2 separate regions of the Homo sapiens genome follow, and region 2 is linked to region 1. Evidence: fine-mapped expression QTL. A gene starts in region 1. The other region holds a variant in brackets. All regions are shown on one strand. Distances are from middle to middle.

What was found.
Region 2: its variant is fine-mapped to the expression of PLCG2 in whole blood (TOPMed, PIP above 0.99).

The regions. Positions count from the first base shown.
Region 1 is chr16:81,774,612-81,782,945 of GRCh38, forward strand. It overlaps PLCG2 (phospholipase C gamma 2), which reads left to right and starts at 4,680. Exons shown (of 33, transcript NM_002661.5): 1 at 4,680-4,813. LOC105369213 (a long non-coding RNA gene) reads left to right here. Exons shown (of 4, transcript NR_189584.1): 4 at 2,561-2,742. RefSeq lists silencers at 4,173-4,467, 4,496-4,765, 4,796-4,895, 4,906-4,985.
Region 2 is chr16:81,923,010-81,931,343 of GRCh38, forward strand. PLCG2 (phospholipase C gamma 2) reads left to right here. Exons shown (of 33, transcript NM_002661.5): 22 at 476-585; 23 at 4,073-4,169; 24 at 5,549-5,615. Among named protein-coding and RNA genes, the nearest start is that of SDR42E1, 84 kb to the right of the region's middle. The variant C/G (reference allele first, on the strand shown) is at 5,174.

The sequences.
Region 1 (8,334 bases):
TGTGGGGGTAGAGGGGTAGGGTTGGCGAGGTTCCCTGGGGCAGGGCGGTGGACCTCAGCCTGGTCACTGCCTTTGGAGGTGGTGGTGGAGGAGGGGAAAGGAGGTCTGGGTTTGAAATAACCCTCTAAGGGTGTTTTTTTTTTTTTGGTCAGGGTCTTACTCTGTTGCCCAGGCTGGAATGCAGTGGCACATGATCTCGGCTCACTGCCTGCAACCTCTGCCTCCTGGGCTTAAGTGATCCTCTTGCCTCAGCTTCCCGAGTAGCTGTGACTCAGGCTCACTCCACCAGGCCTGGCTAATTTTTAAAGTTTTTTGTAGAGATGGAGGTCTCATCATGTTGTCCAGGCTAGTCTTGAACTCCTGGGCTCAAGTGGTCCACCCTCCTTAGCCTCCCAAATAGCTGAGATTACAGGTATGAGCCAATGTGCCCAGTCCACAGATATTTTTCAAAACAGCTTTCTTGAGATATAATTCACATCCCATGCAACTCATGCATGTAAAGTGTACAGTACAGAGGCTTCAGCACATTCACAGAGCTGAGCAGCCATCGTCACAATCCATTTTAGAACATTCTTATCATCCCAAAGAGCAGCCCTGTACCCCTTATCTTTTACCTTCCGATAGGCCCGCTCTCTGCTTTCCTGGTCCTTGGCAACCACTGATCTACGTTCTGTCTCTGTAGATTTGCTAATTCTGCATATGCTATAGGTGGGTCTTATGATGGGGAAATTAAGTCCAAAGAGGGTGGCTGAGCAGCCCACAGCCATAAAACTAAGGAAGGGGCAGACTTGGAACTGGAGCCCAGATTCCTTGTTTCCAAGTTCATGCTTTCACAGGAGGTCTTCTTCTTCCCAGTAACAATTCCTAAAATAGTCAGCCTTGGTTTTGCCCCATGGGGATGAGGGCTTTACCTCCCTCATCTCACAGTCCCCCTCAGATGTAGGTACATTTCTGATACCCATAGGTATAATAATGAGGAAACTGATACCCAGAGAGGCTAATGGTCCAATGCACCATGGCTGCCAGCAAAGAGAAGAGGGTAATAGGGAAAAGCATTTGTATGCCCAAGGACTGGTGAGCAACACAGAATACAAAGAGTCAAGATGATTCAGCTTAAAATGTAATTTTCTTTCAGGTTATTCTTTCTTACCTATCCACTTCCCTTTTTCTTTCTTTTGTAGGAAAAGGAAAAGAAAGATCCCTCTACCCTTTGAGGTCACTTCCTGACCCATTTGTGCATCTATGTAGAGTGGTTACAAACTCACATCTCCCTGCCTGAATGCCTCTTATTAATCTGGGGATGGGTGGCAGGTCAGCATGCCCATGGGCTCTGACACCAGACAGGCTGAGGTTCAAATCCAGCCCCCACCACCCACTGACTTAACCCACTCTAGCCCTCTGACAGCTAACCTGTGACAGGGCCTTTCTACCTCATATGTCTGAACCCACAGAGTGGTTTCTTTCTCTCTCTCTCTCTCTTTCTTTCTTTTTTTCCTTCTTTCTTTTTTGTTTTTTTTGACGGAGTCTCACTCTGTTGCCCAGGCTAGAGTGCAGTGGTACAATCTCGGCTCACTGCAAGCTCCACCTCCTGGGTTCAGGCCATTCTCCTGCCTCAGCCTCCTGAGTAGGTGGGATTATAGGCACCCACCACCAGGCCAGGCTAATGTTTTTGTATTTTCAGTAGAGACGGGTTTTCACCATGTTAAGCAGGATGGTCTTGATCTTCCAACCTCGTGATCCGCCCGCCTCAGCCTCCCAGGGTGCTGGGATTACAGGCGTGAGCCACCGCGCCCGGCTCAGAGTGGTTTCTTTCCCTACCTATTTTATTCCATGGAAAAGAAAGAATACACAGAATGGTTCCTTCCCCACCTATTATCCTTGGGAAAAGAAGTGTCATTTTACATTAGAGTCCTCCCAGAACAGCGCCTGCCGCCTTGATGATGACGACGATTGTTAATTCTGAGATGGAGTCTTGATCTATCACCTATGCTGGAGTGCAGTGGCACCATCTTGGCTCACTGCAACCTCTGCCTTCTGGGTTCAAACGATTCTGCTACCTCAGACTCGTGAGTAGCTGACACTACAGGTGTGTGCCACCATGCCTGGGTAATTTTTGTATTTTTAGTAGAGAGGGTGTTTTACCATGTTGGCCAGGATAGTCGTGAACTCCTGATCTCAGGTAAGCCGCCTGCCTTGGCCTCCCAAAGTGCTGGGATTACAGGTATGAGCCACTGCACCTGGCAGATTATTTTTATTTTGAACAACCAAGTTAGAGTTTGAGAAAGAGATGAAGGGCCTCCAGTACTCTCTTTCAATCCACTGATTCCTTCAGTCGTTCACCTGGGGGGTGGGGTTGGGCTAGGGGTTGGTTAGCAAAAAATGAGCCAAAGAAGAAAATGAATTAAAAACATGAAAGAAAAAAAAGCAAACTGCCATTTACGATGACCATTATCTCACACACAGTGGACATTTTAACTCAAAAATACTATAGGCTCACAGGCATAGATTAAACAGAGAAACCTGTTCTTCATGTTCTTATTTTTTTGCTTGCTTCCCACAGATGAGAGAAAAATCCAGCCAGAATTGGCATCTGTCAAGATAGGCTTTTAGGAGCCACGGCTCCCTAGAGTGGTCTCCACACATTCTGATTATATGCAATCTCATTTTGCCATCAAGAGACTTAACCCACTCCCCTATCCATGTAGACTTTGTAATAATAAATTATACATATATATGACTGAACTAATATATTATGTACTTTATATAACACATACTAAAACAAAAGTGTGAAAAAGATTGGTTGAAATAAATACAAGCTGAAGTTCTAAAAAAAAAAAAAAAAAAAAAGTGAGGCAAAGGAATTGCCCCTAGATGTAGTCATTTTTCCTGGGGAATTGGCCCAATGACTTCAAGTGGTTGATGTCATAATGAGTCCTTCCAAGATCTCTTTAAAAAATTGATGTGTTAAGTGATCTGTGGTGATGAGCACAGCTATACACGCCAGTTGGGAGTGCTGAAAGAAATGAATCCACAGATCTTGTGAAGTCACAAACGAGTCCTATGGCTTGGGATACAACATTGACAGTGAGAGTGATATTCCTCAATTAAAAAACGCTATAACAGGCCGGGTGCAGTGGCTCATGCCTGTAATCCCAGCACTTTGGGAGGCCAAGGTGGGTGGATCACTTGAGGTCAGGAGTTTGAGACCAATCTGGCCAACATAGTGAAACCGCGTCTCTAGTAAAAATACAAAAAATTAGCCAAGCATGATGGCATACACCTATAATCCCAGCTACTCAGGAGGCTGAGGCAGGAGAATCGCTTAAACCTGGGAGGTGGAGGTTGCAGTGAGCCGAGATCGTGCCACTGCACTCCAGCCTGGGCAAGAGAGCAAGACTTTGTCTCAAAAAAAAAAAAAAACAAAAAAAAAACAAAAAAAAAAACAAAAAAAACCAAAAACACACACACACAAAAAAAACGCTATAACAGACCAGTGGCACATGCCTGTGATCCCAGTGCTTTGGGAGGTAGAGGCAGGAGGATTGCTTGAGGTCAGGAGTTCAAGAACAGCCTGGGACACATAGTGAGACCTCATGTCGAAAAAAGAGAAAATTAGCCAAGTGTGGTGTGCCTCTATAGTCCCAGCTCTTCAGGAGGCAGAAGCAGGAGGATCGCTTGAGTCCCGGAGTTCGAGGATGTGGTGAGCTATGATGGCACCACTGCACTCCAGCCTGGGTGACAGAGTGAGACCCTGCCTCTTAGAAAACAGAAGCTATAACTCAAGCAACTTGGAAGTGAAATTCAAGTGCCTGACAGCTGTCTAGGTGCCCCTGAAACTGCCTCTAGTCACAACAAAGATACCTCCATCAAAGAGCATAGGAAGGGTTTGAATCAGATAGCTTCATGCAACACACGAACGGAAAAATAAATTTCTTAAAGAACATATTAGCTTCTTCCCATGAGATCAGGAAAACGGGACATCAATTGTCTGGGGTTCTTTGCTCCTGACTCCCTTTGGGGCTGGCACTATGTTGATCACGTTTTACAGATGGGGAAACTGAGGCTGTCGGTTTTTAAGTGGTCTGCCTAAGGTAGCAGTAAGGGTTGGTCTGACTCCAGCGCAGCCTCAACGAGGGCTTCAAATTAGGGCCATGAATTGGCAATTCCTGGCGGGTAATTGTGAAGAGTATATTTATTTTTAATTTTTATTTATTTATTTTTGAGACGGAGTGTCTCTCGGCCACACCCATCCTAGCTCATTGCTGTCTCGAACTCTCGAGCTCAGACGATCCTCCCGTCTAGGCTTCCCAAAGAGCTGGGATGACAGGCGTGAGCCCGGGCGCCCGGCCGGGAGTGTGTTAAGTATACGGCAAACACCTGGACTGCGGCCGGCTCTCCAGGAATGCCATGATATTGGGGAATTCCCTTTGCACCTGGCCAAGTGGCCTCGGGCAGGTAGCCTCCCCTCGGGTTGCCTCAGTTTCTTCTTTGGCACGCAGAGGCGGGGCTCCAGGCCTGGGCCGCTCCATGGCGGGGAGGGCGCGGGGACGCTGCACTCGGGGTGCGCTCCGAGAGGCGGACCCGGCTGGGCGCGCCTGGGGCGGGGCGAGGCGGGGCGAGGCTGGGCGGTGCGGGGGGCGGCCCCCGAGGATCACGTGGCGCGGCGCCGCGGCCGAAGCAGAAGTAGCGAGCGCCGGCGGCGGAGGGCGTGAGCGGCGCTGAGTGACCCGAGTCGGGACGCGGGCTGCGCGCGCGGGACCCCGGAGCCCAAACCCGGGGCAGGCGGGCAGCTGTGCCCGGGCGGCACGGCCAGGTGAGCTGCCCGGCCGGGAGCGAGGCAGGCAGGGCGCCCAGGGACCTGCGCCCCGCGGGGACCGGCTCCCAGGGCGCTGCGTCCGAGGGGGTCTGCGTCCTGGCTCAGCCGGAGCGGGCAGGGACGGGGCGCACCCTCGGGGACCCCGGCCCGCCGTGCCCGGGGTCCGTTTGGTGACGGCAGGGATCCTGGCCCAGCCGCTGGCCACTTCCTCACCCCGGGCCGGCGCCACCTCTCCGGTCCGTGCGGTGGGGCGGCCCCAGCTTTGAATGGGGACCGGGAGGAAGGTCAGGGGTCGTGTGGGGGCTGGCGTTCAAAACTCCTCTTTTCGAGCGGCTCTGCGTGGGGTGGCGCCGTCTCTCTTGACGGCCCTTGTGCCCAGAGCTCGCGGACGCTCGGAGCCACACTTCCCTGTCTCACTTCGGTGGTTGCGGGTGGCGGGTGGGAGCGATACCGCGGGAGGCGCAGTCCTTCCCGGAGACTTTTGGAGAGCTTGCAGGACACTCGCGATGCCCGCTCCGCAGCTGTCTGCGTAATTATGCGTGTGTCTGTGCGTGTTGTGTTTTGTTGTGTTTTGGAATCCCAAAGAGGGCATTACCCGCACAGCGCAAGAGTTCAGGTTAAAGACGTGCCCCGTTTGGACGGGGAGCTCCTGGATTCCAGCAGGACGGTGGGGCGGGGCTCTCTTGGTACCCTAATCTTGAACTAGGGTGAGAAACTATGGGGGGCGGGGTGGTAAAGGGGTGACATGGCGCGAGGGAAACAGGTGGCCTTGCCCGTCGGAACTTAATTTGAATTTCAGTTCCATCAGTGGGACCCTGGGCAAGTTGAAGAACCTTTTTGAGTCTGTTTCCCCCTCTGGATACTGGAGCCACCCAATTTTCCAGGGCTGTGTCGAGAATTGGGGCTTATTGCTGTTCCACGAGGTTCGCTGAGAATCGGGGCGCATCCATGGAGAGTCCTTGGGCAGTTCCTGACTCTCTGGTTCAAGGGCATTCTCTGGGGCATGGGCCCTCGTCCTTGACTACAGTTCTGCGGGGAAGTTTTACAGAATTTTGAAGTCTATGCCAGCCTCAAGCAGTTTCTCTTGCAAAGGTGTGTGTGCAGTCACGTGTATACCAGCTCAGGGACAATCGTCATTGTGAGCCTCACTGATGTTTAAGTCACCTAATGATGCAGCTGCCTTCCCCCACCAGCGACTGGAGTATGGGCAGTTCCTCTGGAAGTGGAAAAGCACAGACCCCATGAATAGCCCTTTTGCACTCATTGGGTAGAGTCAATGAAAAGCTGCTGGTGAGAAAACTTTTGAAAACATTTCTTGGTCAGGCACGGTGGCTCACACCTGTAATCCCAGCACTTTGGGAGGCCGAGCTGGGCTGATCACTTGAGGTCAAGCGTTCCAGACCAGCCTCACCAACATGGTGAAACCCCATCTCTACTAAAACTACAAAAATTACCTGGGCGTGGTGGTGGCCGCCTGTAATCCCAGCTACCCAGGAGGCTGAGGCAGGAGAATCACTTGAACCCAGGAGGTGGAGGTTGCAGTGAACCCAGATCATGCCACTGCACTCCAGCCTGGGTGACAAGAGAGACTCCATCTCAAGACAAACAAACAAACAAACAAACACACACAAACACTTCTTAATTTAGAAAACAGCAAGAACACAAAGAGAAAAATTTGCCCGTTACATCATCAGTTAATATAAATAAAGTCAAGTTGTATCCTCTACCCTCTCCCAGCCTCCGATAAATAGTAACCACTCTCCTGGATTTACCAGAAGATCACCTTTATAAAAAGGGAATTGTATTATACTCATACAGTTGCAACTATTGTCTGAAGCTATTTTTTTATTGACCTCACAAATCTTTCCAGATCAAATTGCTTATCTATCATCCTCATTCTTTCTGATGGCTACTGAGCGTTCTTCAGTGCATGTGCACCATTATTTATCCAGGAGGCCCCCCACATTGATGAGCAGTTGTTTTCTGTTTTTTTTTCTTTTTTTGTATTTCTATTGCAACTATTGCTTCCGTGATTTTCTGTCGTACATATTGCATCTTTGTGCATGTCTTTCTTTACATGTACAATTGCAGGATCGAAGCATATGCGTGTTTTGCTTTTTAGTAGCTGCTCACAGGTTGCCCTAAAGGAGCAGGGGTGGAATTTACACTCTCACTTGCAGTGGCTGACACCATTCCTTTGAAAATAGTGTATTCCCTCTAATGCTGCAGGGTGGGTGTAAGGTGCAGCAGTAATGTCCCTTGAACTGTTGGAGGGGCCCTTACCACTCAAGTATTTGCCTGTGCTCCATTTTAACACAATTGTCTTGTGGGATTTTTGGATGAAATCCTGTACTGGCTTACCATGCACAGAGCACTGAAGAGACAAAAACTTCCTTGATTTCTGGTTTTGGGTCCTCGCATCTCATTTCATGTCCTTTCCCCCCCCCCCCCCGCCCGCCCCCGAGACGGAGTCTTGCTCTGTCGCCCAGGCTGGAGTGCAGTGGCGCGATCTCGGCTCACTGCAAGCTCCGCCTCCCGGGTTCACGCCTTTCTCCTGCCTCAGCCTCACGAGTAGCTGGGATTACAGGCATGTGCCACCACACCCGGCTAATTGTTTTGTATTTTTTTTTAGTAGAGACGGGGTTTCATCGTGTTAGCCAGGATGGTCTTGATCTCCTGACCTCATGATCCGCCCACCTCGGCCTCCCAAAGTGCTGGAATTACAGTCATAAGCCACCGTGCCTGGCCCATTTTATGCCTTTCTAAATAAGCTTATGAGATACAAGAACATGAATGAGCTTATGAGATACAAGAAAAACCTTTAGAAGGACATGAAATGTAAAAATGGCAAAAATCAGTTATTCAAACTCAGCCATATTTGTATTTACAAAATAAGTCATTTTATAGAATTACCCATTAAGAATGGGAAACAGGAACAAAAAAGGGATTTCAAGGCTTTTTTTTTTCTTTTTTTGAAAAAACCAAAAAAAGCAGAAGCAAAATGGAAGTTGCTGTGGTGGCTGGTGCTCTCTCCTGGGCTCAAGGTCTTGGAGACCTCCCTGCCATAGTTGATAAAGCGTGGAACGCTGGAGACCTGAGCTGGGTGCTGGCAGGATTTGAATGGTGGACTCCAGGGATCTTTTGGCCGTGAAGATCTGTTTCCAATTGCATCTCATAAGCTCATTCATGTTCTTGTATCTCACAAGCTTATTTAGAAGGGCATTTCGTGAGATACAAGAACCCCAAACCAGAAATCAAGGAAGTTTTTCTCTTCAGTGCTCTGTGCATGTTAAGCCAGTACAGGATTTCATCCAAAATCCCACAAAACGATTCTGTTAAAATGGGGCACAGGCAAATACTTGAGTGGTAAGGGCCCCTCCAACAGTTGAATGGACATTACTGCTGCACCTTACACCCACCCTGCAGCATCAGAGGGGATACAGTGTTTTCAAAGGAACGGTGTCAGCCACTGCAGGTGAGAGTGTAAATTCCACCCCTGCTCCTTTAGGGCAACCTGT
Region 2 (8,334 bases), 150 kb after region 1:
GGCCCTCAGGACAGGCAGGAAGAATGGGGTTGCCCTTGAGCTTCTGGGAGGCTTGCTGAGCACCGGCACTGTGATGACAGTCTTGGCTTAATCTAAAAGGCATGTCCTTTCTTTGTTGAGGAAATTGAGCAATATTGTGTCACTACAATATAGGGTCACTCCCACCCTAACCCTAAGCCTAACCCTAACCCCAGCGCTAAACCCTAGCCCCAAACCCTAACTCCTAACCCCTAACCCTTAACCCCAACCCAGGTACCCTTGGCTCTGACTAGGCCAGTTCTCCTTCACTCCCTGGTGGCTTTTTGGGGCCTTCGATCCTTTGCAATGCCAGTCCCTCTCCAGCAGATGACTTTGTAACCTTGGCCTGAAGCCTCCTGCTCCCCAATGAGAAGAACCAAATGGTACCTGGGAACGCAGCCGCCTCCCTCCCCTCCTGTCCCTGGCCTGACCTTTTCCTTCTTGTTTTCCCTGAAAGCCTCAGAGAACCGTGAAAGCTCTGTATGACTACAAAGCCAAGCGAAGCGATGAGCTGAGCTTCTGCCGTGGTGCCCTCATCCACAATGTCTCCAAGGAGCCCGGGGGCTGGTAAGGCTGAGTGGAGGCTGGGCTGCTCGGCAGGTGGGCTTGACTTGTCCCTTCTTGGTGATAAGACTCAGGTGCTGGCCAAGTCTGACCCCCTTTGTCATCCTGGGCTGGCTTTGACCTCTTGTGTTAAGTCCCTTCTTAGGAAGGTGGCTTGGTGCATGCTCTATTTGAGAAAATGGATAAACAACAATATTAACAGGTATCGACATATCATATCATATATTGTATATTATTATAATTACAACAGCAGCTACCATTTATTGAAGTCTTTCTAAGTGGCAAGCAGTCTGCTAATTGCTTTCCATGCATTGTCTAACCAAATCTTCAACCAAATCTTCATTACTCCCTGTGACAAAAGATGCGGCAAATGAGACTTTCCAAGTCACACAAATAAATACTAAATACTAAATAGTGCAGGCGCTTTCCAATACACAAGACTGTGTGTTATTTCCAATTCAAATTCGTATGCTGTTCCATAGTCCCGTGCTGTGTGCAATGGCCACATCCTGAATTGAAGACAATACGTTTTTCGTGCAAAGGTACCTGGGTATGCTAGGGTTTAGTTACCACTTCGCTTTTTAACCTTAGAAGAAAAATTCACTGCCCACTGATAGGTTTCTGGGGAAGTGGTTTTGTGGGGTGACTTCTGTCTGAGAGCAATAAGAACTTGCTCATAATAGTGAGCACTGGTTTAAGCACCTCATAGACTGGCATTTCTGCCTCCCACAAGATAACTGGACCTGGCTTAGGAATCTGAATAGCAGCATGCATGGAGTGCTTCTATGTGTCAAGCACTGTTTTAAGCACGTTTGAAATAACTCACTTCATTTGAAATAACTGAGTCTACATGATGACTGTAAAAGGTTGGTTCTGTTGTTACCTGCATTTTACCGATGAGGAAACTGAAGCCTTCAGAAGTGCAGTCACTTGTCCAGGGCCACATAGCAGGCTGAGATTTGAACCGCCAGGCCTTTTGACTCCAGAGCTTACACTCTTAACTCCATTCATCTGCTAAGTCCTTCCCTGTCCTCTTGCAAGATGCCTTAATCCAGGGATTATCAAACTTTTTCTTAAAATCAGGAGAACCTCATTGCAAACCAATTCATACCTAGATTCCACAGAATCAAAGATGCAGCCGAGTTACCCATTGAGCTGGAGTGGGGGCGTAGAATTGCCCTGTTTGGCCTCCTTGCTGACATTGCTGTTCCTACTGCAGCCTCTGATGCTTCCCCTTGGAGGCTCCCAGACCCAGTTGGGCAACCACAGTGTTGTCCGTCTGCTTCTCCCAGTTCAGAGGCTCGGCTTTGCCGAAGTCCCTCCACTCGAAGTGGCACAGAGTTGAGGTCTCTTCCAGGCACACTGGCGTTCCCTCACTGGGCTCCTGTCCCTGCCTTGGTCAACATCCTGGTGCGCACTGGGTGGGTGACTAACAACATTTTTGGAGTTGTGGCTGGAGCCCAGGTGACTACTCCAAATCACGGTTTTCCATTCTGTGTGAGATGGCCTCATGCCTTTCTATGCCTCTGACAGGCAGTTCTCTGAATTTCGAAGGCTCTTGTCTTAAGAGACTGTCAGAAGTCCCTTTGGCAAGGGACTGTGGGCAAACCGCCCAGCGGCTGTGGTCAATTCCTCTCTCTGATGGCAGTAGTGCTACCTAGGGGGCCGCCTGGGTGAAACCGGCTTTTTTGCATACTTCCAAACTGGTTCCCTGTAGCTAGGGGACCAAACAATTATTGTCTGAACCAAGATGCTCCTGAGAGTGAAGAGAATGTAAAGTGCTCAGTCCTGGACAGATGGTATATATGATCGCCGTAAATACAGCCAGCCCTTGCCAGAAGTGGGTCTGGAGAAATGGTGCGGGGGGGCGTGAAAAGGGCTTACAACCCGCAGTCCTGTGTCTCTGCTAGGTGAATTGGTAGCATCAGTCCTCACTCTGCTTATTCAGACCAAAAAATTGTTAAGTTCTTCCCACCACCACGGAGCACAGACTTGATTAAGATCCAGAAAGGTCAGCCGGGTGCAGTGACTTGCGCCTGTAATCCCAGCACTTTGGGAGGCCGAGGCGGGTGGCTCACTTGAGGTCAGGAGTTTGAGACCAGCCTGGCCAACCTGGTAAAACCCTGTCTCTACTAAAAATACAAAAATTAGCCAGGCATGGTGGCCCATGCCATAATCCCAGCTACTGGCGGGGCTGAGGCAGGAGAATTGCTTGAACCTGGGAGGCGAAGGTTGCAGTGAGCTGAGATCGTGCCATGCACTCCAGCCTGGGGGACAGAGTGAGACTCTGTCTCAAAAAAAAAAAAAAAAAAATCCAGAAGGATATCATATAGAGGGGAAGACAGATGTATAATTATACGTTAAGTATAAGATGTGGCTGCTTGGATGACTGTGGGGACAGGATGCCAGGGGACCACAGAGGAAGAGTGCTCAGCCTAGGGGGCAGTCAGGGAAGACTCCGTGGGAGAGGAAATGCCCAAGCTGAGTCTTAAATTAGTGGGGGGAAGTTGGGTACCAAGGGCATGGGCCAAGGCATGGAAGCTAGGCAGCATGGCAGGGGCATGATAGGGACGACGGGCCAGCTGGAGTCAACATCATGGAGAGTTAGGAGGTGATGTCTGGGAGTCCTGGGGTCAGACTGTGCTGGGCCGTGGCTGCCATGTTGAAGAGTCTGGGCTGGATTCTGGAGGCCCTGGGGAGCCATCATGTGGTGTGGTCAGAGGTGCATTTTGGAGAGTCCCTGGCTGCGGAAAATAGCTCAAGAGATGGGCAGGTTGAAGGAGGGCGTTTGCATGTCTGGGCACGGCCTTGCCGGGAGGAATCTTAGAGGTGCTCACCGTCTGGTGGGGTCCAGGAACATTCATAGATGGATTATGTCCCGTGTTGTTAGTGTTGTTATAAAGATAGGGAACAATGTTTTAGCTGAATAATAATAAGAGCTAACACTATTGAGTATTTACTGTGTACTAGGTAGGCGCTGTCCCAAGCACTCAGCTTATGTTAATTTAGAGTCCTAATAAAACCCTCTGAGGGAAGCACTCACGTTTATGCATTTTTCAGATGGAGAGTTGGAGGCACAGAAAGCCTCCACCGTCAGTGGTAGAGCTGGAGTTTAATTCCAGCCTGTCTGCCTCCAGAACCACCTTCTCTCTAAATTCACAACCTCCCCGAAATAGGGGTGAACTTTTGTCTTGTATGGTCTCTGACTTCCACGTAAAGCATGGAAACTTTTGACTTGTGATCTTTGATTAAACATTAAGATCATGTGATGGGGGTAAAATCAGCCCCCAGTAACTCATTAGTAATTAAAAAATAAAAAGACAGCAGTTGCCTTTGAGATGCTCCATTGTCACAGATAGTGACACTGGTCACTTGGCCACTTGCTGTCTGTCCCCATCAGAATTGAGCCAGCAGCCGGGTGCAGATGAGCAGTAGTGGGTAATTCATGCCACCTGGTGACAGCGCCCCCATGTCCTCTCTTCTTATCCAGGTGGAAAGGAGACTATGGAACCAGGATCCAGCAGTACTTCCCATCCAACTACGTCGAGGACATCTCAACTGCAGACTTCGAGGAGCTAGAAAAGCAGGTGAGTCCCCCTCTTCGATCCTCTTACAGGAAGAAGGGATCTGCAGGTCCAGTTTTTCAGGGAGCTGTGCCATCTCAGTGGGTGAATTTTTCCATGTGCTGCTTGTGGTCTCTGTGGAGCTCTGGATCAGGGAAGACACAGTGATGATAGGGAAATTGAGATTGAGTTGTTGTGGGTGAGTTGCTGTGACAAGCCGGCCGTGTTTTAATCAGGTTGTGTTGGGCTTGGAAGGATTTCATTATGCAGGAGAATTCCCGCTGGAGTGAAAGTGACCAAATGGGGAATTTGTCCTTTGCTTAAGCAACTTGCAGATGAAACACATTTATATTGGACAGCCAGACATTGAGAACGTGCTTGGGGCGAGTAAGCAAGTGGGCCTAACCAGAGGTGAGATGAGGCCTTCCTGGTGACTTTGCAAACCTGGTGGTTGTTCCCTCGCCGCCTCTTGTTTAGAGAGCAGCCACTTTCAGCGTGCTAGCACTCCACCAAGGATGATATCTTTGTAATGAGGATTTTAAGATCCCGTTAGACCCCCAGGTGTTTATTTTCTAAGGGATGTAGGGCAATCTGGGAAGGCTTCCTGGAGGAAGGAGTATTTGACCCTTAAAAGTCAAGTTAGAGTTCAACAGCAAGAGACTGGCAGAAGAGAGGTGCAAGTGGGAGGTACAGTCTAAGCAAAGGTGTGGCAGTGGGAATGTGGTTGTGTTCCGTGTGCTTGGGCTGAGGCAGAGACTGGAAGCCCTTGCTTCCTCTGTACTGAGTTGCCCTTACCTGTACATCAGCATTTACCTGGTGCAGGGGGTGGGGTTTGGGGTGGTGCAGGCAAGGAGTGGATGCCTGGTTCTGCCACCTCTCCTAAGCCCAGGATATTCTTCATCTCAGCCAGACCCTGGGATGGTTCAAGGGTGCAATGGGAGGCAGAGCTGGAAAGGGTGATGGGGGCTCTGAAAGTCTTAAAAGCCAGGTCATAGAGCATGGGTGTTGCTTCCACAGGACATGGGGAG[C/G]CACAGAAGGTTCTTGAGCCGGGCTTTAGTAGGCAAAATAGTCTCATTTTCTAATAAGGTCAGATAAATAGTCTAGGATGTGTTTGGAAACCAGATCTGAGGAAGCATTATGAAACCTGTTCTAGAATTCACAAGGCACGTTTTTACGGATTGGAAAATGAAACTCCGAACCTCCTGGCACCCTCTCCCCGCCAGGTCCCTATCAGCTCCATGCTTCATTATTTAGCTCTCTCCCCATGGACGTATCTGGTAATGAAAATGCATTTTAAACAGTTCCACAGGCAGTATCTCTGCTAAACGGTGTGCTTTGGAAACGGGTTTTCTTTTTATTATTCCCGTTACAACTAACGTGAGTTATGTCTTGTTTCTTCACAGATTATTGAAGACAATCCCTTAGGGTCTCTTTGCAGAGGAATATTGGACCTCAATACCTATAACGTCGGTACGTGCACACATCATCTTAGCCTGGATTTCCACCCCTATCCCCCATGGGCTGACCTCAGCCCCGCCCTACACAGGGAGGTGGCTGACACAGGGTCCTGTCTTGAATGCCAGCTCCTTCCCTGGCTGAAGCTGAGTATTTAGGTCAGGCTGGTCAGTGAGTATGATGCTATGTCTGCTATTAATCTCTACTAAAACTGTAAGTGCTAAAACAAGGTCTCGTACATAAGTGCTAGATGGTGGTTAGCGGATATTATTACCAGCGTCACTCTTATTATTTCAGGATCCATCTGTGTTTCCCATGCGTTGCGAAGGAAAGCTGAGCTGTCAGCCTGGCTGAAATGCAGCGTGGAGTTGGGAGTCTTGGGTTCTAAACCCAGCTCTGCCTCTCTGTCGCTGTGAGACTACAGGCCTGTCACTTCTCCTCTTTGAACCTCTGCTTCCTGGTTGCTCGGCTGGGGCCCAGGAAACCCAGCCCGCCCACGTTGACCATGCTGCAACGGGATGTGAAGGCGTGGCCCCAAGGCTAGGCTTGTCCAGTGGTGGCCAGGGTCTGATGTGTGCTGGGTTTCCTGGGTCTTGAGCCTGCCTGCTTTGAAGTGGGTGTGGTGCAGCTCCCATGTGAAGGGACTCTGTAGCGGGCCTCCTTGTTCTGGGCAGCCCATGACCCTCCCTGGGCAGGCACGGGCATGCTCCCCTAGGACTCAGGTGACAGCAGCCCCAGGAACTTCCTGCTTCTATTGCCAATGCTCTGCTTTACACATTCATTCATTTATTATTATTTCTTTTCGCGATAGAGTCTCGCTGTGTCACCCAGGCTGGAGTGCAGTGGCGTGATCTTGGCTCACTGCAACCTCTGCCTCCTGGATTCAAGTGATTCTCCTGCCTCAGCCTCCTGAGTAGCCGGGACTACAGGCATGGGCCACCGTGCCTGGCTAATTTTTGTATTTTTAGTAGAGCTAGGGTTTCGCCATGTGGGCCAGGCTGGTCTCAAACTGCTGACCTCAAGTGATCTGCCTGCCTTAGCCTCCCAAAGTGCTGGGATTACAGGCATGTGCCACCATGCCCAGCCTGCTTTCCACATTTATAACCTGCTTCTTTACCTTTACAATGATCCAGCAGGATAGGTAGGAGAGGGATTCTTTGCTCCGATTACCAGATGGGAAAATCAAGGTCCTAAGTGACCGACCACCACATGTGCTGAGGTCCTTTGGGCAGGGGGGTGCAGGATCCCTGCATCCACTTCTGGTGCTCTTTGTATCATCTTCCCCCATCCCTGTATCTGCAGAGCAGAGGCACATGGCTCATTGGTTCTGAGTAGAAATCTTGGAGTCAGGTTTGAACTGAGCCTCAGTTTTACTACTACTAGCTGTATGACTTTCCACATGTGACTTTCTCTTAATGAGCCTCAGTTTTGCCTCCTGCAAAATGGGCCTAGCAAAAGCAGGGTGCCTTTAGTCTCAGCTACTCAGGAGGCTGAGGTGGGTGGATCCCTTGAGCCCCAAGAGTTTGAGACCAGCCTGGATAATGTAGCAAGAGCTCAAAATTAAAAAAATAAAATAAAATAAAGATGCAATACATGTAATCTGCTTAGAATATTGCCTGGTATATAAGAGCTCAGAAATCTTAGCTACTAATATTATTTGGCAGATAAGTTTCCCTGTCATAATCTTTTCTTCTCTGTAAGATCCTTTCTCTGTGTCTGGAGAACCCACGCCACATTTCTCTCCTAGTTTCTGGTGACTCTTTGGTGTTTTTGGCTCATGGCTGCATTCTTCAGTCTCCACATTTGCCTGCACATGGCTTTCTCCCTTGTGTCTGCATCTGTTTTTAAAGCCATTTAGCTGGGTGTGGTGGCTCATTCCTGTAATCCCAGCACTTTGGGAGGCCAAGGTGAGTGGATCGCTTGAGCTCAGGAGTTCGAGACCAGCCCTGGGCAACATGGCGAAACCCCTCTCTACAAAAAATACAAAAATTAGCCAGGCTTTGTGGTGTGCACCTGTGGTCTCAGCTACTAGGGAGGCTGAGGTGGGAGGATCGCATGAACTTGGAAGGTGGAGGCTGCAGGGAGCCAAGATCGCACCACTGCACTTCAGCCTGGGTGACAGAGTGCCACCCTGTCTCAAAAAAAAAAAAAAAAGCCATTTAAATTATTTATTCTTTATATGTAAAAGATTATATGTAACAACATAGAAAATTATGCACAATATGCTAAGTGAAACAGTTCACAAAATTTTATGTATTGTATGTAAACATTTTGTAAAAATGCCAAGTTGCTTAGCTATATTTTAAATATTTTTAAAATGAACATGTATTGTTTTAGTAATTTGTAAAAAATATTTATGATGAGTGTAAAAAGCATTTTCTAATTGGTCAACCAAAAAGATATTCAGTGTTTCTTTTGATCAAGACGAACACATGTCTATAACTAAAGTGGACAAGAGGGTATTTTTTTCAGGTTCTCTCATGCATTTTAATGTTTGTTTTTTTTTCCTGCATCTTAAGTGTCCCTCTCCTTTCTCTTATAAGGATACTCATACTTGTTGGATGTTGGAATTGCCCTAAATCCAGGATAATCTCATATTGAGATCCTTAACCTAAGTACATCTGCAACGACCCTATAAGGTCCCATTCACAGGTACTGGTGACCTGACACATCTTTTCGGAGGACCCTACTGAATCTACTGCATCCCTTGAGTAGTCATCTGTGATGTGTACTT